Linked DNA regions of Homo sapiens: regions 1, 2, 3, 4, 5 and 6 are each reported to be linked to region 7. Evidence: microRNA targets listed by miRTarBase, many of them from high-throughput screens and not tested one by one. Region 7 holds a microRNA gene; each other region holds the end of a gene's coding sequence.

What was found. The annotated mature microRNA hsa-miR-548az-5p reads CAAAAGUGAUUGUGGUUUUUGC and lies in region 7 at 2,548-2,569, shown strand. An mRNA with a match to its seed (bases 2 to 7 or 8) in the 3' UTR can be bound and repressed. Matches are read on the target gene's strand: a 7mer-m8 pairs with bases 2 to 8, a 7mer-A1 pairs with bases 2 to 7 and ends in A, and an 8mer does both.
Region 1: miRTarBase lists MCMBP as a target of hsa-miR-548az-5p. Seed matches in the 3' UTR shown: 7mer-A1 at 1,033-1,039 and 7mer-A1 at 2,336-2,342.
Region 2: the mRNA of GOLGA2 is a reported target of hsa-miR-548az-5p. Seed matches in the 3' UTR shown: 7mer-m8 at 1,105-1,111.
Region 3: the mRNA of GNPTAB is a reported target of hsa-miR-548az-5p. Seed matches in the 3' UTR shown: 7mer-A1 at 636-642 and 7mer-m8 at 822-828.
Region 4: miRTarBase lists FZD8 as a target of hsa-miR-548az-5p. The part of its 3' UTR that is shown has no 7-base or 8-base seed match.
Region 5: miRTarBase lists SMG1 as a target of hsa-miR-548az-5p. Seed matches in the 3' UTR shown: 8mer at 1,427-1,434, 7mer-A1 at 1,885-1,891, 7mer-A1 at 3,010-3,016 and 7mer-m8 at 3,212-3,218.
Region 6: the mRNA of PANX1 is a reported target of hsa-miR-548az-5p. The part of its 3' UTR that is shown has no 7-base or 8-base seed match.

The regions. Positions count from the first base shown.
Region 1 is chr10:119,828,261-119,832,338 of GRCh38, reverse strand. It overlaps MCMBP (minichromosome maintenance complex binding protein), which reads left to right. Exons shown (of 16, transcript NM_001256378.2): 15 at 239-327; 16 at 739-2,899. The coding sequence ends at 865. INPP5F (inositol polyphosphate-5-phosphatase F) reads right to left here. Exons shown (of 20, transcript NM_014937.4): 20 at 3,192-4,078. Among named protein-coding and RNA genes, the nearest start is that of MCMBP, 43 kb to the left of the region's middle.
Region 2 is chr9:128,253,864-128,257,863 of GRCh38, reverse strand. It overlaps GOLGA2 (golgin A2), which reads left to right. Exons shown (of 27, transcript NM_001366244.2): 24 at 1-74; 25 at 157-263; 26 at 339-495; 27 at 583-2,035. The coding sequence ends at 797. It overlaps DNM1 (dynamin 1), which reads right to left. Exons shown (of 22, transcript NM_004408.4): 22 at 2,620-3,210. The coding sequence ends at 3,150. Among named protein-coding and RNA genes, the nearest start is that of MIR3154, 11 kb to the right of the region's middle. RefSeq lists enhancers at 1,806-2,308, 2,309-2,813.
Region 3 is chr12:101,743,508-101,747,579 of GRCh38, reverse strand. GNPTAB (N-acetylglucosamine-1-phosphate transferase subunits alpha and beta) reads left to right here. Exons shown (of 21, transcript NM_024312.5): 21 at 339-2,081. The coding sequence ends at 416. It overlaps LOC124902997 (a long non-coding RNA gene), which reads right to left and starts at 3,590. Exons shown (of 2, transcript XR_007063424.1): 1 at 3,551-3,590; 2 at 2,613-2,792. RefSeq lists enhancers at 3,503-3,612, 3,733-3,822.
Region 4 is chr10:35,635,659-35,639,736 of GRCh38, reverse strand. FZD8 (frizzled class receptor 8) reads left to right here. Exons shown (of 1, transcript NM_031866.3): 1 at 1-1,490. The coding sequence ends at 392. Among named protein-coding and RNA genes, the nearest start is that of MIR4683, 3.6 kb to the left of the region's middle. RefSeq lists enhancers at 72-933, 1,620-2,242, 1,423-3,283.
Region 5 is chr16:18,806,210-18,810,280 of GRCh38, reverse strand. SMG1 (SMG1 nonsense mediated mRNA decay associated PI3K related kinase) reads left to right here. Exons shown (of 63, transcript NM_015092.5): 63 at 635-4,071. The coding sequence ends at 712. Among named protein-coding and RNA genes, the nearest start is that of ARL6IP1, 6.7 kb to the right of the region's middle.
Region 6 is chr11:94,180,616-94,184,693 of GRCh38, reverse strand. PANX1 (pannexin 1) reads right to left here. Exons shown (of 5, transcript NM_015368.4): 5 at 2,726-3,904. The coding sequence ends at 3,825. Among named protein-coding and RNA genes, the nearest start is that of PANX1, 54 kb to the right of the region's middle.
Region 7 is chr8:119,322,643-119,326,720 of GRCh38, forward strand. MIR548AZ (microRNA 548az) reads left to right here and starts at 2,529; the gene lies at 2,529-2,623.

The DNA.
Region 1 (4,078 bases), not on the chromosome of region 7:
GCATTGTTTCCTATGCCAGTTGCTGATTTATATGTTTGCTTGACCTTAAATGAATCTGAGTTTCATTATTTTATTTTCATCAGCAGCATTATGTATGTATATGCTTTGGTACTTTCACCCATATTGCCTCCTTTGTCTAAGAGGCTGACATGCACCTTACTACATCAGTCAAGGAACCATGTTAATTTTCTTTTCCTTACAAAAATGCACATCATTTACATTTACTCTTTTGATAAAGGCAGTTGAAGATGACTTTGTGGAAATGCGGAAGAACGACCCTCAGAGCATCACTGCTGATGATCTTCACCAGCTGCTCGTGGTGGCTCGGTAAGTGGCGCACGTCCATTATTGCTGTTTCGGTAAGCTTGTGTATATGTCTTCTGAGTTATTCAGCAGTAACTGAGGCAGAATTCTAAAAACGGAAATGAACTTTTCCTTTTAAAAACGCTGTATGAAAGGGCTCATTGAGGGGGAATCGAGTTTGGCTGGTGATCTCTTCAGTGGAACAGGCATGCTGCTTGTTCTCTAAGCTTCAAAGAGTGAGCCACTTTCCAATTCTGACTCTTCAACGATTTCTTTTTAGAAGCCTAACTTGGCTGTTGACTTGTGTGTAACTACCATACGGTCTTGTCTCCTAACGTGCTCTGTGTTTTCACAAAGTATTCCTAGGTCTTAAAAAAAATTTAAAACTTACTATCCCAGCTCTAGACTTAAATTTGTTTCTGTGTTTCAAACCAGGTGTCTGTCTCTCAGTGCTGGTCAGACAACGCTGTCAAGAGAACGATGGCTGAGAGCAAAGCAGCTAGAGTCTTTAAGAAGAACGAGGCTTCAGCAGCAAAAATGTGTGAATGGAAATGAACTTTAAAGATGTAATACCTATGAAGAGTAATGGGCAAACTGTAGCCACATAATTGTAAAATTCAGATATTCATTTATACCACATTGTTTTATAGGTAATTTCTATCACAAACCAGTGACATTTCCTGAAATCAAGCCTGGTAACACCTGATGTTTATATGATATTCAGTAAGGACTTTTACCTTACTGATTTCATGGAGCTTTTGAAGTTTGTTTTATAATAATTATATAAATTAGTAATGATGTAAAAAAAGTATTTGATATTAAAAGTTTAATATTGATAATGTTGCTGATTGTACCATTTCCTTAGCTTCAGCTGAGTCATAGGCCAGACTGTTGAAATGCTGAAATGAAGAAGGTTGTTGCAGTTTCAAAGTCAGAGGAATCGTGCTTCGGATTTCTTATGTTTTCTAGTTCTCTGTTTTTCCAGTTCACAGTGGGTTGGGGTGCATTCAGTAGTCCATCTTTGGGGAACGGAGGCGTACTTGCCATTGATTCACATGACTACATGAAATTCTGTACTGTCATTTCCCAGATGTTTGGCCACAGAAACTTTTTCCCACTTAACATTTGTTAACAGCCTGCAAAACTAAACTTGTACATGGCAGTGGTTCCCAGACTTTTGTATTTTATGGACCGGTAGTAATATTTCCAAAAATCTGGGGTACTATAAGGTTGCCAATTTACCTTGCCAAGTAATCCGAATAAATCACTGTATTATCACCATTTTTTTCATAAAAGGAAAGGACAATCTATCTCTGAATAAGAGGAGTCCTTTAAACGGAATGAATGTGGCTTTTGGGGGCAAAAGAAACCAAGACACTACATTGTCTTTATTTTCTCCTATCCCAGTGCATTTGAGAACCATGCATAAGGGAATGCTGTGCTACAAAGCTGTGCCCAAATATGAAAACAAAATAGGAAACTTAAAAAGCAATACCCCCTTTAGAAAGTTTTTATTTTCTTAAATGTCATTGAGTTGCTTTGATTCTATTGGATTTTTGGCATTTTTTATGGGATCATCAGTTGGTTCCAAGTATGTTAGATCAGCTAACATCTGCTACTCCAGTAACAGCCTCGTACAACTGCAGGTAGGTTTTCTCCAGACCAATTAGTTTTAATAGAGCAAACTAACAACAGACTGTAGTAGCATGGTTATGGCAACCAGAATCTTCAGAAAGGTTAGGACATTACTTTTTAAGCTGTCAGTGGTATCAAATAACTTACCTAGTTGGAGGCAGATAAAGGATCCCTTACGTTTTTTCCTATAAGGCCTAAATTGAAATTGTTAACCAAGGAAACAGGGTCAGCCTTGAAAAATCAAGGAATTCATTGTACCTAATAACTGAAGTAAAAATAACTAGTTGTTCAACTTTTCCTAAACTCAAATCTATTTTTATAAACAAATGTAAATAATGTTTATATTAGAGTTGAACTGGTTTTCATTTTTATAACTGGTAGACTAGACCTTCCTTAAACTTTTAGAAATAAAATGAAGGCTTCACTGGATTTGTGAGGATAAAATACATTTTCTTTAATTGTCCTAGAGCAAAGTACATTAGTCACCATGTGTTTTTTGTGCCAATGTAAATTGTAATTTACCAAAGAAAAATACATACATTGCTTGGTCTTGCAGAAAAGTTCCCTTGAAAGAACCTTTCCAATAAATAAAACGTCCCAAATTAGCAGTACCTTGGGCTGTTTTTCATGAGTAAGAAGATTCACCATCCCATGTGATCTGTGTGGAAAAAGACCATGTCCTCTTGGTGGAAGACATGAGAGAGCTGAACTGAAGTGGAGGAGGTGGTGCAAGAGGGACCTTCCTGCTCAAGGCCCGCCCAGGCAGCGGAATGGAGTGCAGTGCTTGGCTGCAGAAACCCTTTGTCCCTCACCTATATATACACGGACAGTCAAGTTTGTTGCTCTAACGTAAGGCACAGCGTTAATCCTGTATGGCCAGGAAACTGAGTAGACTCCTGTGTAACCCTGTTTGGAACTTTGCCTTCTTAAAATGATTTTTCAAAGATCTCTTTCGAACTAATTTCTGTAGAGTTTAAACGTGTATTTTATCACCTAATGTTGGGTTGTATTTTCTCCCATGTTGGGAACCCTTAATATTTTCAGGACCCGGAAGAAAAGTTGGTAGAAGCAAGCATTCAGTTTTGAATGTTTGGATTTAAAGTATAGTTTCTGATCCATTTCCCTTTTTACATCATGAGTATATTTCAAAGGAGTAACATACTGGCAACAGCTAGACCAAGTGTTCAGTTATAGCAAATCTGCCGTTTACAAATTCTTTAATCTGTTATGCAAGGAATTCTCATACCCATTTGTCACTTTAAATTACAATGGTACTTTATTTTAATAATCACAAGATTTAACACGTAAAAAAAAAAGATAGCACTAATAAATAACAAAAGTGGAATGCTTATCAAAGTAACGACATAATGTTCAGTTGAGAATCAGTCACTTCAACAGAGTAAAGCTCTAAAGACACCAGACGAACCAATACTTGTTGGAATATGCCATACAACTTTCTTACTGTGGGGATTACAGGGGCAGCCCTGGTTCTGTGTGGTCAGAGTTATAGTCAGACAGATTCAGCACAATTGTGTTTCAGACTAAATTGTTTTTGAGACACGGTCTTGCTCTGTCCCCCAGGCTGGAGGTCAGTGGCACGATCACAGCTCACTGCAGCCTCAATCTCATGGGCTCAAGCAATCCTCCTGCGTAGCTAGAAACACAGGCATGCACCACTATGCCCAGCTAATTTTTGTATTTTTTTGTAGAGACAGATGTTTCCCAGGCTGGTCTCAAAACTCCTGGCCTCCCAAAGTGTTGGGATTATAGGTGTGAGCCACTGCACTAGGCCCAGACTAAATTTTGAAGTTGTGGATCATCTACATAAGATGTCGAGGATGCCCCTCCTGGAATAAATTAAAACCTGACTGACTTCTAGAATTTCCAGTAGCCAATATGGGTGTTCTTACATTCCTGAAAACAGCAAAATGAAACCTAATAGGTGCTGGTATTCACCTCTGATGTATCAGGTTTACTGTGTGACAAGTCTTAATGCTCCTAGGTTTACATTGTATAGGCAGCAGAGTATTTTTAATGTGTTCAAGTAGAATACGGGGAAAATTAGGATCAAATGAGAATTCATTTCTCTAGTGTCAATAACCCTCAACTCCTCAGGGAACAGTTAAGCCATCAAAACTAA
Region 2 (4,000 bases), not on the chromosome of region 7:
GGCAGACCTGAAGGAGAGGGTAGAGGAACTGGAACATCGCTGCATCCAGCTTTCTGGAGAGACAGACACCATTGGTGAGTGGGAGGCCAGGGCACGGCAGGAGGAGCTGCACAGCGGTCGGAGGGAACCCAGCATCTGAGCCCTGTCCTCCCGCAGGAGAGTACATTGCACTGTACCAGAGCCAGAGGGCAGTGCTGAAGGAGCGGCACCGGGAGAAGGAGGAGTACATCAGCAGGCTGGCCCAAGACAAGGAGGAGATGAAGGTAGGGTGTGGAACATCTCTGGGGGTGGAGGTGGGCACGGGCATGGGCATGGCAGCTTAGCACCCCTCCCTCCAGGTGAAGCTGCTGGAGCTGCAGGAGCTGGTCTTACGGCTTGTGGGCGACCGCAACGAGTGGCATGGCAGATTCCTGGCAGCTGCCCAGAACCCTGCTGATGAGCCCACTTCAGGGGCCCCAGCCCCCCAGGAACTTGGGGCTGCCAACCAGCAGGGTGGTGAGTAGAGCCCTCGGGAGGGGTGGGCAGGCAGGAGTAAGGGAGGGCTCGCGTGGCACTCAGAGCCCTGCCTCTCTCTCTCCAAAGATCTTTGCGAGGTGAGCCTCGCCGGCAGTGTGGAGCCTGCCCAAGGAGAGGCCAGGGAGGGTTCTCCCCGTGACAACCCCACTGCACAGCAGATCATGCAGCTGCTTCGTGAGATGCAGAACCCCCGGGAGCGCCCAGGCTTGGGCAGCAACCCCTGCATTCCTTTTTTTTACCGGGCTGACGAGAATGATGAGGTGAAGATCACTGTCATCTAAAAGCCGGCTACTGTCAGCAAAGCCTGAAGAAGTGGGGCTGGATACCCTGCCCCCACCATATCCCTACCATCCCTTCTCAGTCAACCCTTTACCCTTACAGTAGCAAGCATAGACCCCTGTCTAACGGGGGTAGACAGGTGCAGATGAGGTGAAGATCACTGTCATCTAAAAGCTGGCCACTAAATTAAAAAAAAATTAAAAGTTATGGGATTAAAAAAAGTTATGGGATAAAAAAGGTTATGGGTAACTTATGGTATAAAAGTTATGAAAAAAGGCCAGGTGCAGTGGCTCACGCCTGTAATCCCAGCACTTTTGGGAGGCTGAGGTTGGGAGTTCAAGACCAGCCTGGTCAACATGGTGAAACTGTGTCTCTACTAAAAATACAAAAATTAGCCAGGCATGGTGGCACGTGCCTGTAATCCCAGCTACTCGGGAGGCTGAGGCAGGAGAATCGCTTGAACCTGGGAGGTGGAGGTTGCAGTGGGCTGAGATCACGCCATTGCACTCCAGCCTGGGCGACAGAGTGAGACTCTGTCTCAAAAAAAAAAAAAATTATGAAAAAAGTTATGGGATTAAAGAAAGTCAGGATAAAAATTTTAAAAAGCAGGCCACTGTCAGCAAAGCCTGGAGAAGTGGGGCCGGAGGCTCCGCCCCCATCATGTGCCTGCCACCCCTTCCCAGTCATCCCTTTACTCTTACAGTAGCAAATAAGACCCCTGTCTAATGGGGGGAGACAAATGTGTAGACCCTTAGCCACCTTGGCCAGGGCTGACTCCTTAAATTTCTGGATGATGATGATTGTTATTTAATAGCCAGAGGCTCATATAATTGGCCTCTTTGGAAGAGGCCTCATGGCCTCCTTACTCTCACCAAAGCAATTTTTCCCTCAGGGGGGCTCCCATCTTCTTACACAGAGAGGCAGCTGAGGCAGGACAGTGGGGCTAACTGTAGACCAGGCGAGGGCACGGGCTGCTGGGGTGGCCCTGCTTCCCCAGTGTACATATTGTATCTGTGTAACATTTTGTATATTCCAGGGGTAGGGCCGCCCCCTGTATCATACCTAGCAGAGGTTGGAGCTGGCACATGGGGAGGAGGTTCTAATAATTATTTGGGGCTGGGAAACTTATTTATTGATAGCATAGGACAGAGGAAGGAGGCGGGGATGGGGTCGTGGCGCCCTGGTGATGCGACTCCTGTTTATTTTGCTTTTTATTTCGGAATAAATGGATTTAGCCATACTGCTCTGCCTGATGTGTTCCTGTTTCTCTCACTGGGTCCTGGAGTTTGTGCCACTGAACAGGGAGCCCCAGAGTGTCTGAGCATGTGCAGCTGGGCTGTTGGGACCTTCCAGGCTTGTTACCTGTATGCTGCCTGGTGACATCTTGGGGATTACACGGGGACTACCATGGTACCTATGGGGACAGTTTGGCCCCGATGGCCAACAGGCTCAGAAGCCTGATCTAGCGGTGGCCAGGAAGACAGGATGCCAGCACCCAAGGGCACTGACTTCCATCCAGCCCAGGTGTCTTCCATTCTGTCCCCCTGCCTCCCTCGCCTGCCTGAGCCTGGTGGCCTGTTCTGTCTGTCCCTCCAGAATGCCAGCCGCCCTGCCGGCGCCCTCCAGGCTGAGTTAATGGCCCTGCCCCCTAGTGGCCAGAGCCCGCTTCACAGGATGAGAGCCCCCTAAGCTCCAGGGGCTTTCCAGGAAAAATGTCCCTTGGAAAAGATGTGGTCTTTTCACCACCCCCAGCAGCACCCTAGTAATGGCTTAGCCCTTCCCCTCCCCTGAGCTCCAGAGAGAACACAACCAGCAGAGGAGACATTCCCCATCATCCAGAAATGGGTTTTATTCTCAGCCGAGGGACAGCAGGACTGGTAGAAACTGTCAGGCCACACGGCTGCCTGCACAGCACCCCCATGCTTGGTAGGGGGTGGGAGGGATGGCGGGGGCTGGCTGTCCACAGGCCGGGCATGACAAGGAGGCTCACTGGAGGTGGCACACTTTGGAGTGGGATGTCGGGGGACAGCGTTCTCTGGTAGTTGGGCCACAAGACTCCACAAGGATAGCACAGTGACTGATTCCCAGCGCTAGAGGCGAGGCGGTTGGCCATGTGTAGGTGTGTATATATATGAGTATTTATAGATATTTATAGAACAGGGCAAGGGCATACCACAGAAGGGGCACAAGTTTTCACCAACGGTCACACCTGAATGTATCAGCTCACCACTACAACAGATTAAGTCACAGATGAAGGGGGCTGGCTTTGGGGCTGGGGGAGCCACTGTCAAGTCACAGAACAGCCGTCCAGGCAGGCTTGGAAAGGGAGGTCTCCGAGAAGAGGAGGGATCTGTTTAGAGGTCGAAGGGGGGCCTGGGGCTCTCAGGACGGGATGGACTTGCCTGACCCGATCGGCTGGCAGTTGGAGAGAAAGCAGAGAGAAAACGGGAGAGAAAAGCGAGGAGAGAGCTGGTAAGGCAAGCGCAGCACACGGCCGGGGCCGGCCGCGCCGCAGCAGTGGTGGGAGGGCCGGGGAGGGGAGGCTGCAGGTGTGGGTGTGGCAAGGTTCCTGGAAAAGGGGCTGGAAGGGAAAGGGGAGGAAGATGGAGGGAGGAGCCGTAGCTTCACAGATAGCGCCTGGGGGCTGTGGCGGCCCTCCCCACCCCACACACGCTGGCCTCTCACACGGCACCCAGGCAGGGCACCCGCAATTCAGGCTGATGCTCGGCCCCCTCGGGCTTCCCTCTTCTCTGGTCACCCTGTCTTCCAACCCACTGGCCTGGGGCCACCCCTTGCCTTGGGGAGCCCCATGCAACAGCCACCAGGCCTGATAGAGAAAGAACACTGCTTGAACCAGGAGGGTGAAACTAAAAGGGATGGCTGGAGGGAGCGCCGGAGGCCCCTCTGGGTGTTCAGAAAACCCAGGACCCTCTGAAGGGACCCTGGGGGAGGCAGGGAGGGCAGGCAGCCGGATGCCAGTGGCCATAGACTTATAAGTCTAAGAGGGGAGCCTCAGCTGGTCGGGGGGCTGCAGGTCTCGTAGGTGAGGCTGGGCCCTTCCTGCTGGGAAAAGCAGAAGAGCGAGAGTCAGTGGCAGGAGAATGGGGGGTGGGCTCACTGGGCGGAGCTCAGCTGGGCCAGCAGGCACGGTCGTCCCCTTGGCTGAATGGCACAAGTGACCCTAGGAGCAACAGGCCAAGGTGCG
Region 3 (4,072 bases), not on the chromosome of region 7:
TGACAAATGGACATCTTGAAAATAAATATGCTTTGGTAATAGCTGTGTAAAAATCTGTAGTTGTAGGTCTTAGAAAAATGAAGCATGGGCCGAAATAATTTTAATCCTCTTGGGTCTCTTTGTGGGCACATATCTAGGCATACTGTCCCTACAAAGCTAAACAAAACTAATATTTGTTTTTGTTTTGGAAGAGGAATGATGGAGATTTGTTTGTTGTCTTTTTAATGTATAAGATTGTGGAAATGATTAAGGTCATATGGCTCTTAGAAAGTTTGATGCACTTATATTCTTTCATCAACGTGAGAATTAAAATGTATTTTCTGTCTTTCATCATTTAGTTAATTGCACTTAAGCGGAAGATATTTCCCAGAAGGAGGATACACAAAGAAGCTAGTCCCAATCGAATCAGAGTATAGAAGATCTTCATTTGAAAACCATCTACCTCAGCATTTACTGAGCATTTTAAAACTCAGCTTCACAGAGATGTCTTTGTGATGTGATGCTTAGCAGTTTGGCCCGAAGAAGGAAAATATCCAGTACCATGCTGTTTTGTGGCATGAATATAGCCCACTGACCAGGAATTATTTAACCAACCCACTGAAAACTTGTGTGTTGAGCAGCTCTGAACTGATTTTACTTTTAAAGAATTTGCTCATGGACCTGTCATCCTTTTTATAAAAAGGCTCACTGACAAGAGACAGCTGTTAATTTCCCACAGCAATCATTGCAGACTAACTTTATTAGGAGAAGCCTATGCCAGCTGGGAGTGATTGCTAAGAGGCTCCAGTCTTTGCATTCCAAAGCCTTTTGCTAAAGTTTTGCACTTTTTTTTTTTCATTTCCCATTTTTAAGTAGTTACTAAGTTAACTAGTTATTCTTGCTTCTGAGTATAACGAATTGGGATGTCTAAACCTATTTTTATAGATGTTATTTAAATAATGCAGCAATATCACCTCTTATTGACAATACCTAAATTATGAGTTTTATTAATATTTAAGACTGTAAATGGTCTTAAACCACTAACTACTGAAGAGCTCAATGATTGACATCTGAAATGCTTTGTAATTATTGACTTCAGCCCCTAAGAATGCTATGATTTCACGTGCAGGTCTAATTTCAAAGGGCTAGAGTTAGTACTACTTACCAGATGTAATTATGTTTTGGAAATGTACATATTCAAACAGAAGTGCCTCATTTTAGAAATGAGTAGTGCTGATGGCACTGGCACATTACAGTGGTGTCTTGTTTAATACTCATTGGTATATTCCAGTAGCTATCTCTCTCAGTTGGTTTTTGATAGAACAGAGGCCAGCAAACTTTCTTTGTAAAAGGCTGGTTAGTAAATTATTGCAGGCCACCTGTGTCTTTGTCATACATTCTTCTTGCTGTTGTTTAGTTTGTTTTTTTTCAAACAACCCTCTAAAAATGTAAAAACCATGTTTAGCTTGCAGCTGTACAAAAACTGCCCACCAGCCAGATGTGACCCTCAGGCCATCATTTGCCAATCACTGAGAATTAGTTTTTGTTGTTGTTGTTGTTGTTGTTTTTGAGACAGAGTCTCTCTCTGTTGCCCAGGCTGGAGTGCAGTGGCGCAATCTCAGCTCACTGCAACCTCCGCCTCCCGGGTTCAAGCAGTTCTGTCTCAGCCTTCTGAGTAGCTGGGACTACAGGTGCATGCCACCACACCCTGCTAATTTTTGTATTTTTAGTAGAGACGGGGGTTCCACCATATTGGTCAGGCTTATCTTGAACTCCTGACCTCAGGTGATCCACCTGCCTCTGCCTCCCAAAGTGCTGAGATTACAGGCATAAGCCAGTGCACCCAGCCGAGAATTAGTATTTTTATGTATGGTTAAACCTTGGCGTCTAGCCATATTTTATGTCATAATACAATGGATTTGTGAAGAGCAGATTCCATGAGTAACTCTGACAGGTATTTTAGATCATGATCTCAACAATATTCTTCCAAAATGGCATACATCTTTTGTACAAAGAACTTGAAATGTAAATACTGTGTTTGTGCTGTAAGAGTTGTGTATTTCAAAAACTGAAATCTCATAAAAAGTTAAATTTTTGTCTGACACTTTGATTTTTAAATCTTTGAGGATTGAGTTTACTGTTACTCAGATTCAGCAGTCACTTGAGTGCCTTTACTGTGTATCAGGTTCTGTGCTGAACATTACTAAAATTAAGTGGAAAGTAAGGAAAGATTAGTATTATACAGAAGAATGTTGCTTTATGGGGGGAAAATAGTTTCTAAATGGAATTTATCATATGGTAAAATTTAGGATATCTGGGTATCATTATAAAAGCTGAGATTTATTCTAGAAAAGTTAGAGAAATGAACATTTGTCTGTAATGACGATTTCTGTGGTTAGATGAATATAGTCCATACCTAATTAGGAGCTTGATAATGGGATGGATAATACAATCATAGGCTATTCATAGACTCATTCTAATGATTCTGTGATTCAGTAGAATCATTAGAACAGAGGAACCTCAGAAGTTGATGAGCAGTCAGATGGTCAGAACCATTTGTTCAAATCCTATAGAAAAGGTCACTCTGTGTTTTAGTTTTTTTGTGCTGCTGTAACAAAATACCTCAGACTGGGTAATTTACAAAGAACAGAAATTCATTTTCTTACAGTTCTGGAGGCCGAGAGTCCAAGATCAAGGGGCTAGCAGGTTTAGTTGTCTGGTGAGGGCTGCTTTCTGCTTTTAAGATGGCTTCTTGAATGCCGTGTCCTCACAGAGCAGAAGGGCAAGAAGGCACAAACTGCCTCTGTCAAGCCCTTTAATAAAGACATCTAATTGAATTGATGAGGGCTCTGTTCCCATGACTTATCACCCTCTGAAAGCCCCACCTCATAATACTTTTAAATTGCCAGTTAAGTTTCAACATGAATTTTGGACAGATAAAAATTCTGTGATACAAAAGAAGGAAGGCTGCTTCTCCTGCCTGATTCTCAAGGTGTTCCCTCCAGCTCCCAGGCCCTTCGGGCAGAGTTTCAAAACAACTGTCTGGACGAACCCTTGCTTTTTATCGGCAAGGACACCAAGGCCACGGGGATGACATGACTTGCTCAAGGTCTTACAACCAGTTAGAGGAAGAGGTAGGGTGGGAACCCGGGTTGTCCCTCTTTCCTGTCCCCACCAGCCCATGCTGCCTCCCCAGGACTGTGGCACATGTGGGTGAAGAGCACACTCTGCAGTCAGACTACGGGAGTTCAAGTCCTGGATCCTGGACACTGCTTGCCGTGATTTAGCTTTCTCTGCCAAAATGTGGGAGGCAATACTGGTAGCTACCACAGAGGCTTATGGTGATAATTAGAGGAAATGACATGTGCAACACACGCAGCCCAGTGCCTGGCAAATAGTCCTGCCTGCTAAATGTCAGTGGTGATGATGGTAATGATGAAAATTCGTGTTAAAGACTGTTGTCCAGGCCAGAGGTGAGGCTCCTAGTCTAGTCATTAGGGTGAGATGATTATATTGCTCTTAGCTAAAAAAGTGACACATTTTCTAATTACAAAGGATTTTTTTAACCTACCTTATGTCTTCAAAAGTGTTTTTTGTTTGTTTGTTTCTTTTGAGACGATCTCACTCTGTTGCCCCAGGCTGGAGAGCAGTGGCGTGATCTCAGCTGACTGCAGCGTCAACCTCACAGGCTCAAGCAGTCCTCTCACCTCAGCTTCCTGAGCAGCTGTGACCACAGATGTGCTCCACCACACCTGACTAATTTTGTTTATATTTTTGTAGAGACAGGGTCTTACTGTTATCCAGGCTGTCTTGAACTCCTGGGCTCAAGCAATACTCCTGCTTCGACCTTCCACGGTGCTGGGATTACAGGTGTGAGCCACTGTGCCTGGCAAAAGTGTTCATTTTGAAAATTATTTCTACATATACCAAGAAGTATACAAATAATAACAGATTAAGCATTTAAACTAAAGGGTAATCACTACTTACGTCAAAACATCTAAGGAAGAAACAGCACCAGTCCCACACAAATTCTTCCAGAGAGCAGAAAAAAGCAAAATACAGTATCATCCAACTCATCCCTTGAAACACAACC
Region 4 (4,078 bases), not on the chromosome of region 7:
ACAACTGCCCGTGCCTGCGGGACCTGCAGCCCGACCAGGCACGCAGGCCCGACTACGCCGTCTTCATGCTCAAGTACTTCATGTGCCTAGTGGTGGGCATCACCTCGGGCGTGTGGGTCTGGTCCGGCAAGACGCTGGAGTCCTGGCGCTCCCTGTGCACCCGCTGCTGCTGGGCCAGCAAGGGCGCCGCGGTGGGCGGGGGCGCGGGCGCCACGGCCGCGGGGGGTGGCGGCGGGCCGGGGGGCGGCGGCGGCGGGGGACCCGGCGGCGGCGGGGGGCCGGGCGGCGGCGGGGGCTCCCTCTACAGCGACGTCAGCACTGGCCTGACGTGGCGGTCGGGCACGGCGAGCTCCGTGTCTTATCCAAAGCAGATGCCATTGTCCCAGGTCTGAGCGGAGGGGAGGGGGCGCCCAGGAGGGGTGGGGAGGGGGGCGAGGAGAGCCAAGTGCAGCGAAGGGACACTTGATGGGCTGAGGTTCCCACCCCTTCACAGTGTTGATTGCTATTAGCATGATAATGAACTCTTAATGGTATCCATTAGCTGGGACTTAAATGACTCACTTAGAACAAAGTACCTGGCATTGAAGCCTCCCAGACCCAGCCCCTTTTCCTCCATTGATGTGCGGGGAGCTCCTCCCGCCACGCGTTAATTTCTGTTGGCTGAGGAGGGTGGACTCTGCGGCGTTTCCAGAACCCGAGATTTGGAGCCCTCCCTGGCTGCACTTGGCTGGGTTTGCAGTCAGATACACAGATTTCACCTGGGAGAACCTCTTTTTCTCCCTCGACTCTTCCTACGTAAACTCCCACCCCTGACTTACCCTGGAGGAGGGGTGACCGCCACCTGATGGGATTGCACGGTTTGGGTATTCTTAATGACCAGGCAAATGCCTTAAGTAAACAAACAAGAAATGTCTTAATTATACACCCCACGTAAATACGGGTTTCTTACATTAGAGGATGTATTTATATAATTATTTGTTAAATTGTAAAAAAAAAAGTGTAAAATATGTATATATCCAAAGATATAGTGTGTACATTTTTTTGTAAAAAGTTTAGAGGCTTACCCCTGTAAGAACAGATATAAGTATTCTATTTTGTCAATAAAATGACTTTTGATAAATGATTTAACCATTGCCCTCTCCCCCGCCTCTTCTGAGCTGTCACCTTTAAAGTGCTTGCTAAGGACGCATGGGGAAAATGGACATTTTCTGGCTTGTCATTCTGTACACTGACCTTAGGCATGGAGAAAATTACTTGTTAAACTCTAGTTCTTAAGTTGTTAGCCAAGTAAATATCATTGTTGAACTGAAATCAAAATTGAGTTTTTGCACCTTCCCCAAAGACGGTGTTTTTCATGGGAGCTCTTTTCTGATCCATGGATAACAACTCTCACTTTAGTGGATGTAAATGGAACTTCTGCAAGGCAGTAATTCCCCTTAGGCCTTGTTATTTATCCTGCATGGTATCACTAAAGGTTTCAAAACCCTGCATTCATTTCTGGAGTCCGTGATTTTGAAAGCACCTGGTGTTCCAGGGAGGGAACGCATTGCTGAGGTGTAGAGGTTAATGTTTTAAACCATAGCTCACCCTTTACAGTAGAAGTCACTTGACAATCTGGTAGGGGAGCAGGCGCTCTTCAATGGATTAAACTAACGGGTTAACATCTTAATAACCTTCAGTGCTTGTGTATACCAAATGTGCTGCTTTTCCTAGAGAAAAAGCTATTGTTCCTCTGTCAAGACTAAGCTAATTTATTTGAGCAGAAGGCTGTTGAATTAGCAGAAGAATGCTTCGGCAATTGTTGAACTTTTTACCTGTCTGCCCAGTGGCTCAGCACATCATTCCTTTAAGAGGAGCTAAATGAATAGGGTTAATCTGTAGGGAACTTGGTCTTTTGAGTTTGAAAAACTTTGATCTTTTCTCCTCTGCAAATGTGCTGTATAGTCTGAAGTTTCTTTCCCTGCTGCCTATCTCCTCTTAGTGCAGACCAATTGGCCACCGCGGAGCCTTAAAGTTCTTCCATTAAAGGGATGTGGGACTTTTACTTTAAAAAGGAGAGAGAGCGCGAGAGAGGAAGACTTGTAACAGTTAGTGAAGACCGGAGGCACAAGTGCTCAGCCTTTTAAACAGCTTTTCCCGGCATTGTTAGCCAGCCTGCAGGCAGCTAGGCATGGGTTGAAGCTTTATAGAAAAGGGCTCTGAATGCCCCACAGGTGGTCTGCGCACATAATCCCCCAATTTAAAGCGTTTTCCTTTGCTGGACAATTGCATTACAAAACTCCCTTCTTTTTCGCTCCTAATTGAACCAATGAACTATTATAAACTACAAGTTTTTCTTTAAAAAAATTGCCGGTGCCTAAATTCTATTGACTAAATTCTAGCAAGTTTTCTAACTGAACCTTTTAAGGCACCGGAAGTAAAAGCTGCTTCAGCAGACGTTTCTGTTTCGCGGATATTTTTATTCCTTATGCTTGTTATTTTCTGACAGATTAGCAATAATTTAAAAGTAATTGGTAAGATTGTGTGTTAATACTGAAAAGATAGCCCCAGGTCCCTTATTAACCTGTCAATCAAGATAAGAAATGGGCAGCTACCCTGCTAATGATGGGGCATCAATCATTGTGGGATGGGAGGGGCTTTGTTCTGCACATCCTGCTAAAATGTTTGTTCTCCTTACTTTACCTAATAGGAATCTTTAGTGGCTAAAAAAAATTTTAATAGAGTGGACGCTACTTTCTTGGCCGATCTTTCTCATGTAAGAGGCTTCGCATAGGATCTCCATAGTAGTAACATTTTGCAGATCCTTTTCAGAGTAAGTCTCGGTGTTAATTAAGTTATGCAATTAGAACCCCTGCTTTAGCTATCATGCCAATCTTATTTTTTAAAGCCAGAGACACTGTAAAAGTGTTCACCTCTCCAGTAGTTTTACTCATTAAAGAATTATTTTGTAACTTAGGTACCTATCAGTGGCCTACATCTAACCCACGTGTTGACTCATGTATAGTATACATATGCCAGCCATAAACTTTTTATATTCAGTTATAAAGTAGAATTTTGAGAGCAGATCCCAGAGTCTTTACCACATATGAAGGATGGAGAGAAAGCTACAAGACACAAGTTAGCATGTTGGCTTTCTCATGTAGCAGTATTGTCATTATTGACGCATTTTCAACTATATAGCACAGTGGGAAAATGTCCAGCTTTGAAGCTTTTTACCTTATTCTTCAATATATCATTATAAAATGCTATATTCGATAACTCAAGATGTATGTGTGTTTAAGCGAACTTATTTGACAAAAAACCCAATTTAAATTCTGAGGACAGTTCTCAATAAAAAGACCTGCATCTGTCATCACTAGAGACTGATTTTAGAGATGGTATTAAGACATAAGTGCTGGTTCTTTGCCTTTAAAGCTAAAACTTGAGTTGCATATTTGCCAGTACTCAGATGGTATCTACTAAGGGAACAAAACCCCAAAATTGATTTTAGGGTGGAAGAAAGAAACGAGTCTCTATCTGGCCAATTGCATTAGACAAATGAACACCTCTGTGTGCTATACAGGTGTGTCTTTAATTACATAAAACAAGTGTTAGTTTTTCAAAATCTTGTCAAATTGGGAGAGGGGTTGATGTGGTTGCTGTGTGGCTAGAAGATCAAGTCTAACATGATTAAAACCATTACTAAAGCCAAAGCTCATTAAAATTGCTTGTGGGAGAAGTTATGTGAAACACTTTCTATTTGCTTTATAATAAATGCAATTTGAAAGTACCATGAAACAGAAGGGAAAAAAGTTGATAAGAAAGTTTAAGGAGTAAACCATGGCACATTACAGTTTCTTAACCTGCACTGACCGCATTGCTGGTGCCTGTAATACTTCAGAGTTTGGGCAAAGAGAGTGAGATTGTCTTGCCAAAAGAAAACCAGGAGCAGTTGCAGAGCACGGGATGCAATTTAAAGTGTAGGTGCAAACGTTCTGTTGAGACATAAAAAGCAAATCAGTGCAAGTGTCTATCCGCTTTCCACATTTGATACTATACTGCCATCTGGTGGTAGTACGGGGTCCCAGAACCAGGAAGT
Region 5 (4,071 bases), not on the chromosome of region 7:
AGTGATGTTTCTTTCTCAGTATTTTACATCAAGAGACACATGTCAGTTTGTGCCATCTTTGGTGGTGATAAGCTAGATCATTTGGTCAAGAGAGGTATCCTCTTGATGTCTTCATTATAAATGTACATTTTTTTCCTGTGGGATAAAAATTAAGAGACTGAATATCCTGTTCTTCCATGGTTTGGCATCCGTAATTCAATTTTAACATCAGCAAGGAATTTTTTTTTTCTTTTAAACACTATTATATTCTTGTATAGGACCTAGACTTGAACTCTTCTTGGGCAAGAATTTTTTTTTTTTTAAGAAACCGTTTTGTCAAGTTTGTCAAAAACCATGAGAGATTTTCTGAGTTTGGGATATTTTTACTTAAGAAACGTTCTGGTAGGTTAATGGATTGTGTGCTTTTCATATCTTTATAACTGTCTTAGCTCTCTTTTTAAAGTATACTTGGTTATTGTGCTTTTTATTCTGATAGTTATTACATTTTATATGAAAATTAAGGGGCTTACAGGAGCAGGGTAAGTATAGAGTCCTTTGCACTTAACTTTTGGCATAATTTGTCTGCTGATTGTAATTCAGCAGACAATTGAAAAGCTTTAAATGACTTTACATACTATCCTGCCTATTTTTACAGGTTGACTATGTCATTAAGGAAGCAACTAATCTAGATAACTTGGCTCAGCTGTATGAAGGTTGGACAGCCTGGGTGTGAATGGCAAGACAGTAGATGAGTCTGGTTAAGCGAGGTCAGACATCCACCAGAATCAACTCAGCCTCAGGCATCCAAAGCCACACCACAGTCGGTGGTGATGCAACTGGGGGCTTACTCTGAGGAAACCTAGGAAATCTCGGTGCACTAGGAAGTGAATCCCGCAGGACAGCTGCACTCAGGGATACGCCCAACACCATGGCCTGCAACCCCAGGGTCAAGGGTGAAGGAAAGCAAGCTCACCGCCTGAACACGGAGATTGTCTTTCTGCCACAGAACAGCAGCAGACGTGTCGGGAGGTTAGCTGCGGAAAGAAATCGGGATGCCGCGGAGCACAGAGTGATTTGGAACTCCATTCCACCTGACCCTGTGTGTACAATCCAGGAAAAAAACAAACCCCACTCAGAAACAGAGAAAACTGGGGTCGCGAAGAAATCACAGCCAAGGAAGATTTGATGCATTCAGATTCTCGTGTAACACTTGTTGCTTGGCAACAGTACTGGTTGGGTTGACCAGTAAGTAGAAAAAGGCTAAAGGCTATGCGATATGAATTTCAGAAATGGACTGAAAATGGAGAGCTATGTAACAGATACACTACAGTAGAAGAACTTACTTCTGAAATGAAGGGAAAAAAACCACCCCATCGTTCCCTACTCCTCCCCACCACTTACCCGTTCCCCCTTTACCTAATCTAGTAGATTAGCCATCTTTCAAATTCACTTTTATTTCAGTCCTTATATTTCATATACTTCCGTCTCGATGCTGTTAACAACTTCTGATAACATGGAAAATTCAAGGATTGTTTAAAGGTCTGATGATCACACACAAAATGTAATTCCGGTTATTTAAGTCATTTCTGTGATTCTATCATGTACAGTTTCCAGAATTGTCACTGTGCATTCAAAAGTAATGAATCTAACAGACATTTGATTTAATGTACACTCCCTTTTGCTTATAGTGTGCATTTTTTTTGGAGGTCATTCAAATTTTCCCTCTTCTGTGATAGCTGTAGTTTCTTTCATAGAAAGTAGCTAATCCAGTGTAATCTTTTACCTTTTTAAAAACCAAGATAGAGTATCTATTAGAGTTTTACATTGTTGATGATAGATTAACAATAAAGTGATGTTCTGGTGGAGGTAGACTGAAATTTTTTTAATTCATGTTTTTCATTTGATACTTTTAATTTACACTTAGTAAATTAAAAGTTGTTTAATTTACTTGGCATTTTAGGACATGTACATGAAACAGTGAAAATGAGATCCACCAACATCTTTTATTAAGTTCAGTTATTAGTCTGTGAAGTGCTTTACTTTTTGCACAATTTTAATAGCTTGCTATTCAGTAATACATTATAGTGAATTCATGATCAAGGTTTCCTTAAATTTAGCATTGCATTTCAGTACTGACTGTGTAAGCTAAATTGCTGATCCAAAATAAAAACCCAGACTAGAATAGGGTTCTTAAAATCAAGTATCAATACAAAATAGAACACAATTAAAATCTTAATTGTTGGCTGGGCACAGTGGCTCACGCCTGTAATCCCAGCACTTTGGGAGGCCGAGGCGGGCGGATCATGAGGTTAGGAGAGCGAGACCATCCTGGCTAACACGGTGAAACCCCGTCTTTACTAAAAATACAAAAAAAATTAGCCGGGCGTGGTGGCGGGCGCCTGTAGTCCCAGCTACTCGGGAGGCTGAGGCAGGAGAATGGCGTGAACCCAGGAGGCGGAGCTTGCAGTGAGCCGAGATTGTGCCACTGCACTCCAGCCTGGGCAACAGAGCTAGACTCTGTGTCAAAAATAAATGACTAGATAAAAAAAAAAATTGTTTGAGTACATTTTCCCTGCATTTTAGAGATTAGGACAGTGGTCACTTTCTAGTTGCCGTCTTCACAGACAAACTTGAAAGGTATTAAGGAAAAAATTCCACATAGCTCTGGGCCTTTTTTGTATTCTGATTGCCACGTTAATCTGTAATCGTTAAGTACCCATGAAAGAATGTGTTTCAGTATCAGTGCTTTTTTGGTACTTTAACAAGTATTGTAGGCACGGTGGATTTTTTTGAAATACCCATGTGTCCAATAGCAAGTTAAGGAACCTAGCGCATCAAATTTTGTTTTCTTCATTCATTTGGAACCTTATTTTCGCAAAAAACCTAGCTGGAATAATAATGCCATATTGTATTTTGCACACTGCTTTATTTTCTAGAGGCTCTGGGAGCAAATTACATTCATCACATTACCTCTGCTCTCTCAAGATTAAAGTCTTTCAGCAACATTCTTTATTGTCATCATAAGGAAAAACTTTTATCGCAATGATAGTCAGTTCACATTAGTTTAGCACTATAGATAGTATTCAGAAATTGCTTTCTCTTTGGTAAAGAAGATAAATAGGTGAATTTTATTGCCTGTGTTTTCAGGCTTCAGAGGTACCTGGCACCTTACTCAAGCAAAAACAAAAAACAGCTTTACTTCAAAAGCATGTGCCTCTGGTAAATTATCCATCACTTTTGTTTTAAAGTGGTCCCTCCAAGAATAATGTGGCATACACAGTGGGTTTGGTTGTAAGGCAGATGTAATAGATGACTTCAAAAGCCTGCTCCTTACTGCACTCTGGACAAGGCCCTGGTCTGTATAGTTTGGCTTCCTCTGTTAAGTCATTCTACAAGGTGACTTGCCATTTGAACTTTCGTAAGAGACCTCAGCAGTTAGACTGAGAAAAGTTAGAGTGCTGTAGTTATGAAGTCATACATTTTTGATAAAATACCTGTGGAAAACCAGGGATCCTCTCCTGTTTCTCTCTCTTGCCTCCCCCTTTCCCTCCATTCCTCTGTCGCCTCCCCCTCTCCTCCACTTTCTTTAAGAATCAGGGGGTACAGAATAACCTACAAACAACCTCTTCAAAGTACCCTTGGAAATTGAAGTTCAATCTTAAGTTTTTTGCTGTCTTTAATTTACTAGAATTGCCTAATTTTTAGTTGATTTCTCTACAGAGCTTAGCTTGTGTAGTTATTTCTCTTTTACTGTTGCTTTGGTGTGTCTTGAAGTTTGATTGATTATTTTTGGTCATTGAGTTCTTAGTGTAGTTTGCTAGATGATTATTAAGATTCTTTTGTGTCTGACACTTGTGGTGAGTTGCTTTTGAAATCTGTTGAGATTTCCATGTGAGAACTGATAATCAGGCTCTTGATCTGCTTCCCTAAATTACTTTTTTAGAGCCCAAACCCCAGGTTTAGGGTGAGGGTTTGTAATACAAAGAAACACTTCCATCACTTCTGCCCTTAACCCTTGCCTCTATTACCTAAGCTTAGTAAGTAGTTTTCTTAATATTGTCCAATGTTTGGTGTTATCTGCATTGTTTTTTG
Region 6 (4,078 bases), not on the chromosome of region 7:
TATCCCTTTTAAAGAGGTTTATTCTGAGGAATTACTGAGACCAGGAGCTTTAAAAGCTTCAATTTCCCTAATCACTGAGAGGCAATCTTGAACTTCTATTGAACTTGGAAAGCGGTCAAGACTCACTCCATAATAAGAAGTTAAGGACTGTCACTACTTAAGGTGGAAACCTATTCATTTGCAGAAATAGTCCTCTTTCTACCAAGAGGCTAATGAGCCTCCCCTCCCCTTCCCCTCTCTAAAATAAAATCAGTTTGCCTTCTAAAATCAAATAACAGTTGCCAACAAATTAGGATTTATCCTAAGAGTTTGTCCATTCATTTCAACAAACATTTGAAGAATGCCTCATCTGGGCCAGTCTCTGTTTTAAGCACTTGCGATATAGCAGTGCATAAAAATTCTCACCCTTACAAACCTTTGATTGACCCAGGACTGACAGTAAGCAAAACAAACCAAACACGAGCACATTTTAAAAAGGTGTCTAAAAACCTGCCTGATAGCTGAGCTAATTCTCATAGGCACAAACTGCCCTGACCTGAGCTCACTCTTGGACAAGCAGTTCCCACAAATGAAACTAAACATGCAAACCAGACCCACTGTACAGGTGGAAGTTTCCAGCTTTCTCACAGTACAAGTTTAAGGTAGGACGCAGCATTTTATAGTGTTACGTCCTTCCTCCCCACATTCCTGTGAGGCGGAACAAGAACAATTACTTGACCCTGGAGGAAGACGACGCCTTGTGGTCAGGGAGAGAACAGCAGTTCATGCTGGCTGCCTCGTCTTTCCAGGCCTGCTGCTGCCCAGGCTTCTACTGACCTTGTTAGGTCTGATTCTAGAAAATGAAGGCAGGTACTCAAAAGGTACAGTTCACCCAGAAGAATGTAAATGTGACTGAGCTAAGCAAACGTACAGCTGAGTCTTAGTGTTGGGGGAAGTAGCTTTCATGAAGGCAAAGGGAGCCCCATTCTCGGCCGTATGGCTTGCTCTTCAGCCGTTGGAGTGCAGCTTTTTCAGAGGCGTGGACTAAAATGACCTCCTAAGGTGCACTGAAAATGTTGGCTGTAGATCTGAGGAGAGGGTCCATAGCTATAAAAATATTTGCAAGGGGATTGTAACCCCTCGAAGTTTAAGAACCTCTATGTTGGAAGTCTCTGCCTATCCCTTTGTAAAAGTGAAGATGTGTTGGAACGCTGCTTTCACAGTACTCTATGTCCCTCCCAGTTGCAACAATGTTGTTTCCAGCCTGGTTCAGCAGCTTGCTGGTGGTTTACTAGGCAGACATGAGCCAGAAACAAAATCAGCAACCCTGGAGTGGTCATTTAGGATCAGTTTTGTCTCCTTTTACAAAGCAATGAGTGCTTTATAAAAGCATTTCTCCTCAGGAAACTGGCTCCTCAAAAGTCGTTCTCCAAGCCAGCAGCTCACAGTAGATGGATGAGTTTACCTGTCCTAATAATACTTTTTATTATAATACTTTTATTACTGATACTTTATTATAATACTTTTATTACTGATACTGATACCTAGTAATACTTTTATTAGATGAAATGTATCCCCAGGCCTCCACATCAGCCTTCTGGGGCCCTGACAGTTGTTTACCAGTAGCTCCACAACCTCCACAGGCTTGTTCTCTCATCCCTGTGAGGGAAGGTTCAAAAGGCAACTGGATTCCTTACTATTCAAAATCACTGTGACTATTTCACACAAACTTCAACCTAGAGGATTTGCAGCTAAAGAACCTTAAGGTGGTCATCTGCCTCTGGGAAAAATGATTACTATATTCTCAAAACCAGCAGTTACAGGAACTATAGGAGAGAAAACAAAAACAATGTGCCCTCTCCCAAGAACACAGAGCATTTGCTAGGAGTTTTCTGGCATAGCCTTTACTGTGGCTACGCTTTCTCCTCTTAGGCACCAGCCCATGTTTCTGCTGCCTTTTACTGGACTCTGAAGTCCTCAAGGATGGGACCTGCCTATGCATATCTGCACATCCAACTTGGTACTGGTGCCTGGGACATCACAGACCCTACTGGAGTTCAGAGAGTGGGAATGGCTTGGAGACTTCCTGGTGTCCTAAAATATCAATTTTTACCGTTTCAAAATAGAAATTAAGGATAGTCTACAGAAGATGAAGCTTTTTGTAAAAAAAAAATCATATCCTAGAAAATGTATCTCGTAAATCTTTTTAAATTTTCAAAAGAAACCAGTGTAGAAACTTGTGATGGAACATCTCAGATACGGCAATATAATAATTTTGCAAATTCCATTATTTAGGTTACTGCCATTTCTAAGTCACAGAATAATTCAACAGTAATAAATATCATGTAACAGAATAATTTAACGCACTGATTGCTACTTTGATATTTATCATCAGCTTTCCATTTCAGAAAACATCACAGAAGTACAAATAAAATCTGCTTTTCTGAATATTCCAAAAGGCAGACAGCAGCTTATATAATTTCCGTTCTTCAGAAAACAGTAATTAGATTATGTAAACAACTGTCCGTAAGAGCTAAAAGTAAACTTGGAGGTTCCTGAGGATTACTGAACTTATGCAACATGCTAACTTTCTAAGACTAAAACTGGGAAGTTCCACAGATGTTAAAGATTTTTGTGTGTGTGTGTAAAATGTGAACATAGGATCTATTTACATAGTTGGAATTGGGAACAGTTTTTAACATGTTCTGAATCAGCTTTAAATGTTTATGAAATAAGCTTACATTTGTCTTATCCAACCATTTATAATCTTTATTCTATAATTCTCCACCAGTGCTAGAATTTTCTTCCCAAATGGCCTCAATTCGGACACTGAATAAACGATAATGAATTTTTTAAAGCTGTGCTTAAATATAAACAAAATAAACCGCTAAGTTTTTCTGGCTCCAAGCACGCCATATGAAGCATGCCAATGTCACTTATGTGCCCTGATCACATTCAGGCAAAGTGTTCTTCACTTTAAATACTCCTGTGTTCCATTATTGTTTAAGTAAAATCCTATTTCAAATGCCTTTGATAACAGAGAAACCGCCTGTAGACAAACTCTTTGAAAGTGACTGAATTAATGTCTTCTGTGATGTCAGATTTCCCCACTGGGCTCTTTTGGAAGCATTCTTCCTGAATTGAAGTCACTGTGAATATCCTTTAGATTTCATCTTGTTAACTCAGTTTTCAGTCAGAGCAGCACTTGGGCCTGCTGCCCTTCAAGGCACAGTGCAACAAATAGTGGTTACGGGATTTCCATCAGCCAAGGTTGACAACTAACAATGTAAAGAGAGCTCGAGTGTGGGCCAAGGCATCGGACCTTACACCTAACTTAGGACATAGGTCGACCTATGGATTATTAGCCAGTGAATGCTTTTCTTGTCTAACAGTCTTTAAGGGCACATAAGAAACTCACGTTAAATTATACCCTGACATATTATTATTCCATGAAAACAAAACAAATCTTCCAAAGTGCTTGTTTTCCAGTAGCTCTGGGTCTTGTCTCACCACGGGTACAGAAAGGTATTGCTCCGAGGCTCTGACAGGGCTACTGCTCTTGACTAATTGTTCTTGTCTTTCTGCTTTTCATTTGATGAGGACTTACACATAGTTACTTGCTGCAGTTTACTATCTCTCAGGTGCTTCCTATGGGAAGTTCATAAACCATTCTTCCATAACCTTTTGTTGATCACCATTTCCATTAGGGACTCAATAAGACATGCTCAGTATCTCCACCAAGAACCATTTATTGCAAACCAGCTGTGAAACCAACAGGGGTGCTTTAGCCAAATTAAATCCCATGTCGCAGAAGTCACAGATTTACAGCTCAAGGAAAAAAATCATCAGCAAGAAGAATCCAGAAGTCTCTGTCGGGCATTCTTCTCTCCATTATTTGCTTTAGTTTCACTGTCTATGTTCATACCTGTCAAAATTGAAAACAAATATTTATGACAGAAACATAGCAGGAATTACCAATACTAATCAATTTTTCTTCTGCCAAAAATTCCTCTCACAGTCTATACCATGTTTTGCTTCTTGGCCTAACTAAAAGAATCAATAAACTTTTAGTCCCCTTTGAAAGAGAAAGTCAGAGAGT
Region 7 (4,078 bases):
ATGAGATATATATATCATATATATATGTGATATATATATATATATCAAATGTGATATATATGTGATATATATATATATCACATGTGATATACATATATTTTCTTTATCCAGCCCACCACTCATGGGCACCTAGGTTGATTCCATGTCTTTGCTATTGTGAATAGTATGGTGAACACATGAGTGCATGTCTCTTTTTGGTAGAATGACCTGTATTCCTTAAGAGTATATACCCAGTAATAGGATTACTGGGTCAAATAGTAGTTCTAAGTTCTTCGAGAAATCACCAAACTGCTTTCCACAGTGGCTAAACTAACTTACATTCCCACTAACTGTGTCTAAGTGTAACCTTTTCTCCACAGCCTCATCAGCACATGCTGTTTTTTGACTTTTTAATGATAGCTGTTCTGACTGGTGTGAGATGGTATCTCATGGTTTTGCTTTGTATTTCTCTCATGATTAGTGATGGTGAGCATTTTTTCATGTTTGTTGGCCACTTGTCTTCTATTGAGAAGTGTCTGTTCACGTTCTTTGTCTATTTTTAAATAGGGTTATTTGGTTTTTGCTTGTTGATTTGTTTAAATTCCTTATAGACTGGATATTAGACCTTTGTCAGATGCATGGCTTGGGAATATTATCTCCCATTCTATATGTTGTCTGTTTACTCAGTTGATGGTTTCTTTTTCTGTGGAGAGCTCTTCAGTTTAATTAGGTCCCACTTAACAATTTTTGTTTTTGCTGCAATTGCTTTTGGGGACTTGGCCATAAATTCTTTGCCAAGGCTGATGTCAAGAGGGTATTCCCTAGGTTTTCTTCTGGGATTTTTATAGTTTGAGGTCTTACATTAAAATCTTTAACCCATTTGTAGCTGATTTGTGTATATGATGAAAGGGTCCAGTTTCATTCTTCTGCATATGATTAGACAGTTATCCTAGCACCATTTATTGAATACGGAGTCCTTCCCCAATTTATTGTTTTTGTCAGCCTTAGAAGACTGCCTATATTTCTAATTGATTACTCCTAATGGGTTTCAACTTAGCCAGAAGGATATTTCCAAAAATCAGATCAATCTTATTATAACTCTAAACCTGGCATCTGACTTCTCTCAGTGTAGACCAAGTAACAACACCAGACATAAGGAAACAGTGTGTATTAGGTGATTCAACCATAACACCTCACTATCACTAATACAGCATAAGCAAAGACATCCCACTCCTCTACCATCTCCCCCTTCATACTACATAGACATCCACACATGCACACACGTACACACATTCACACCCCCCCACCCACAACATGCACACACCCCTTTACATCATCATCAATACAACAGGCACTGGGAAAAAGATAAAGAGAGGGAGAAAGCCAACAACACATCCAACCCTATCCATATCGACACATAAACCCTGTTCAATACGTATACTATACAGAAGCCCTGCACAAGCTTTTAAAAAAGGAAAGTTTTACTACCCCAAATTAAGACTATTTTTAATCAGAAGTAAATAAAAAGTTATTTGTCAAACTGAGATATCACTGTTTCTTGTTGCCCAGCAGGGAAGGAATTCAACAAAGCAAACCTGGCAACAGTTATTGAAAAAAAAAATAGAATTGTCTTACATTCACAAACCATTAACTTGAAACTTCTTCATCAAAACTTTTATTTGTGCAAAGGCCTAGAGGTAAGAATAATCATGATTTATTCAGAGAAAGAAAGAAAATTTCAGAATGTTTGGAGCAGAGAAAACAAGAGAGAAGGAAAAAAGATGGGATTGAGTGGCTAAATGAAGGCAGTTTATAAATAACCCCCAAAGTATTATTCTAAATGTAATGGGGGATGATATTTAATCAGGATAATGCTATGATCTGACTGGATTTTTGGAACCATCCCTCTGGCTCCAATAGAAACATTTTTGGAAGTAATGAATTCAAAATACGGAAGACCAGAAAGGAAGGTGTTTTGAGACTAAAGACAAAAGATGATTGCCTGAACTATGATAATAACAAAAGATGAAGGTAAGCAAAAAATAAAAGGAGAGCCATTTTATCAAATAGAAACACAAGGCTTGATAACTGATTACATATAAAAAGTAAATGAGAAAAGGGCAAGTCATGGAAAATTATTGGGTATTTGGCTTTTATAATTAGGTAGATGGTGGTAATTTCACTGATAAAAAGGACACTAAAGGGGGATATTTATAGGATTTTATGTGGTGATATCTACTAGGTGACTAACAAATTAGATCTGAAGCTCTGGAGAAATATCTTGGCTGAAGATATAGATTTGAGAATCATGATTGAAATTATATAATTGAATTTGTGAGTATGAAAAATATAATCCTCAAAGAGAGGCTACGTGAAGCAAAAAAATAAAAATTCTATCTAGGCTAGAATCTGGAAGAAAATTCATATACAAGAGATTAGCAGAAAGCAGGGAAATTCAAAACAAACTGGGAAAAAGCAGAGTAATTAGAGAAAGTTTAAAAAATGTAATAATAATAGGGAAAAATATTTCACAAAGTAGGGAATATTCAAGATTGTATTAGGTTGGTGCAAAAGTGATTGTGGTTTTTGCTGTTACTTTTAATGGCAAAAACTGCAATCACTTTTGCACCAACCTAATAAATTTGCTGCACAGAGATCAAGTCAGTTGAGGATCAGTTAAAGAAATTATTGGTGACTCTGGCAAGAGCACTTTCAGTGGTGTAGCATGGGACTGGTCTATCAAAACTGCCATCTTATAATCATTCATATAAAACAACTAACCAATAATAAGAATATGGAAGACAGACTCGGCCTGTGTGCTTTGGCAACTTTAAGTTCCTTTGGTACTGCATATGCTGATCAACAAAGTAAATGATATTGAAGGTGTTGAGAGTATGGATACTATGCAATAAGAAATTACCCACAACACAAATGTACCAGAATTTGATTTGACGTGGAAATTTTACAAAATTTGTTTTGGGATTCAAGCTTGCTCTTTGGAAGAATAGTGAAAGACTTACTTATCATCTCCGGAACTCTAAACTTGCTGATGATCAAGGATGAGACAACCAAAATTATTATCACCATAAAAATATTAGTTAGAAGGATTGCATATCATTCAAAGTGTAGTATTACTACCTAAACATTCACTTTCAAATATATTCAAAATTGACTTGGAGTAAAAATTAATATCCATATATGCTTTATATGTTGCAATTCTTCCCAGAAAATCTTATCTTAGGGTCCATTTCACCATCAATATTTACAATGGCAGAGCTCAAAACAGAATAGCTTGCTCCTCCTTTGATCTAAATTGAAAGTGAGAGTCTACTGTATTGGGATTACACAGGTTTAGTGTATTGACCTCCACTGAGAAGGCTGGGAAATCATTGTGTTGTACAGTAATGTCAAATTATACACTTTGACTTTGAGCATTTTTAATGACAAAATTAAAATAAAATGTGGAAATTTTAATATTTATTCTTTTTTCCCAGAAGTTCATGCCATGAAGTGATATTCATCTTCAACTTCAACTTAGGCTGAATATTGACTTTAACCCTTGGCTAGACATTCAGCTAAAATGTGTAATTTCGTGGACCCTACCCAACAGTGTTTCATGGGCTTTTTTAGAAGGGTCTGCAATGTAGCATGCTTGCACAACAGTAAGTAATCAAAAAGCAAGATTCTTGACAAGAAAGTTAATGTGTTTAATTAACATATTAAGCAATCTACAGTAGCCTGAAATGTGTTAATGAAAATCATCTGGGGGAAAAATAAAAGGAAGCCCAGAAAAAGTCCATATGCCTAGCTGATGTGCTAGTTAATTCTACTCAAGGAAGGTTTTCTGTGAAGATTAGTGTAGCAAGAAACAAATCCCTCTGAATTCATGACACGATGCATGCCAAAAGAATAAGGAATTTGGGATTATAAAAATGCCTTATGGTGTGGTTATAGGTACAGGAGAGAGAGCAAAGATAACTAACAACACAAGATTGAGAGAGGATAAATAAGGCAGAGCCCTAGGAGGGATTGGCCTTGGGTAAGAGAGGTCACTTCCTTTCTGGTAACTGATATGAAAGAGATAGGATATCCTTGGCTT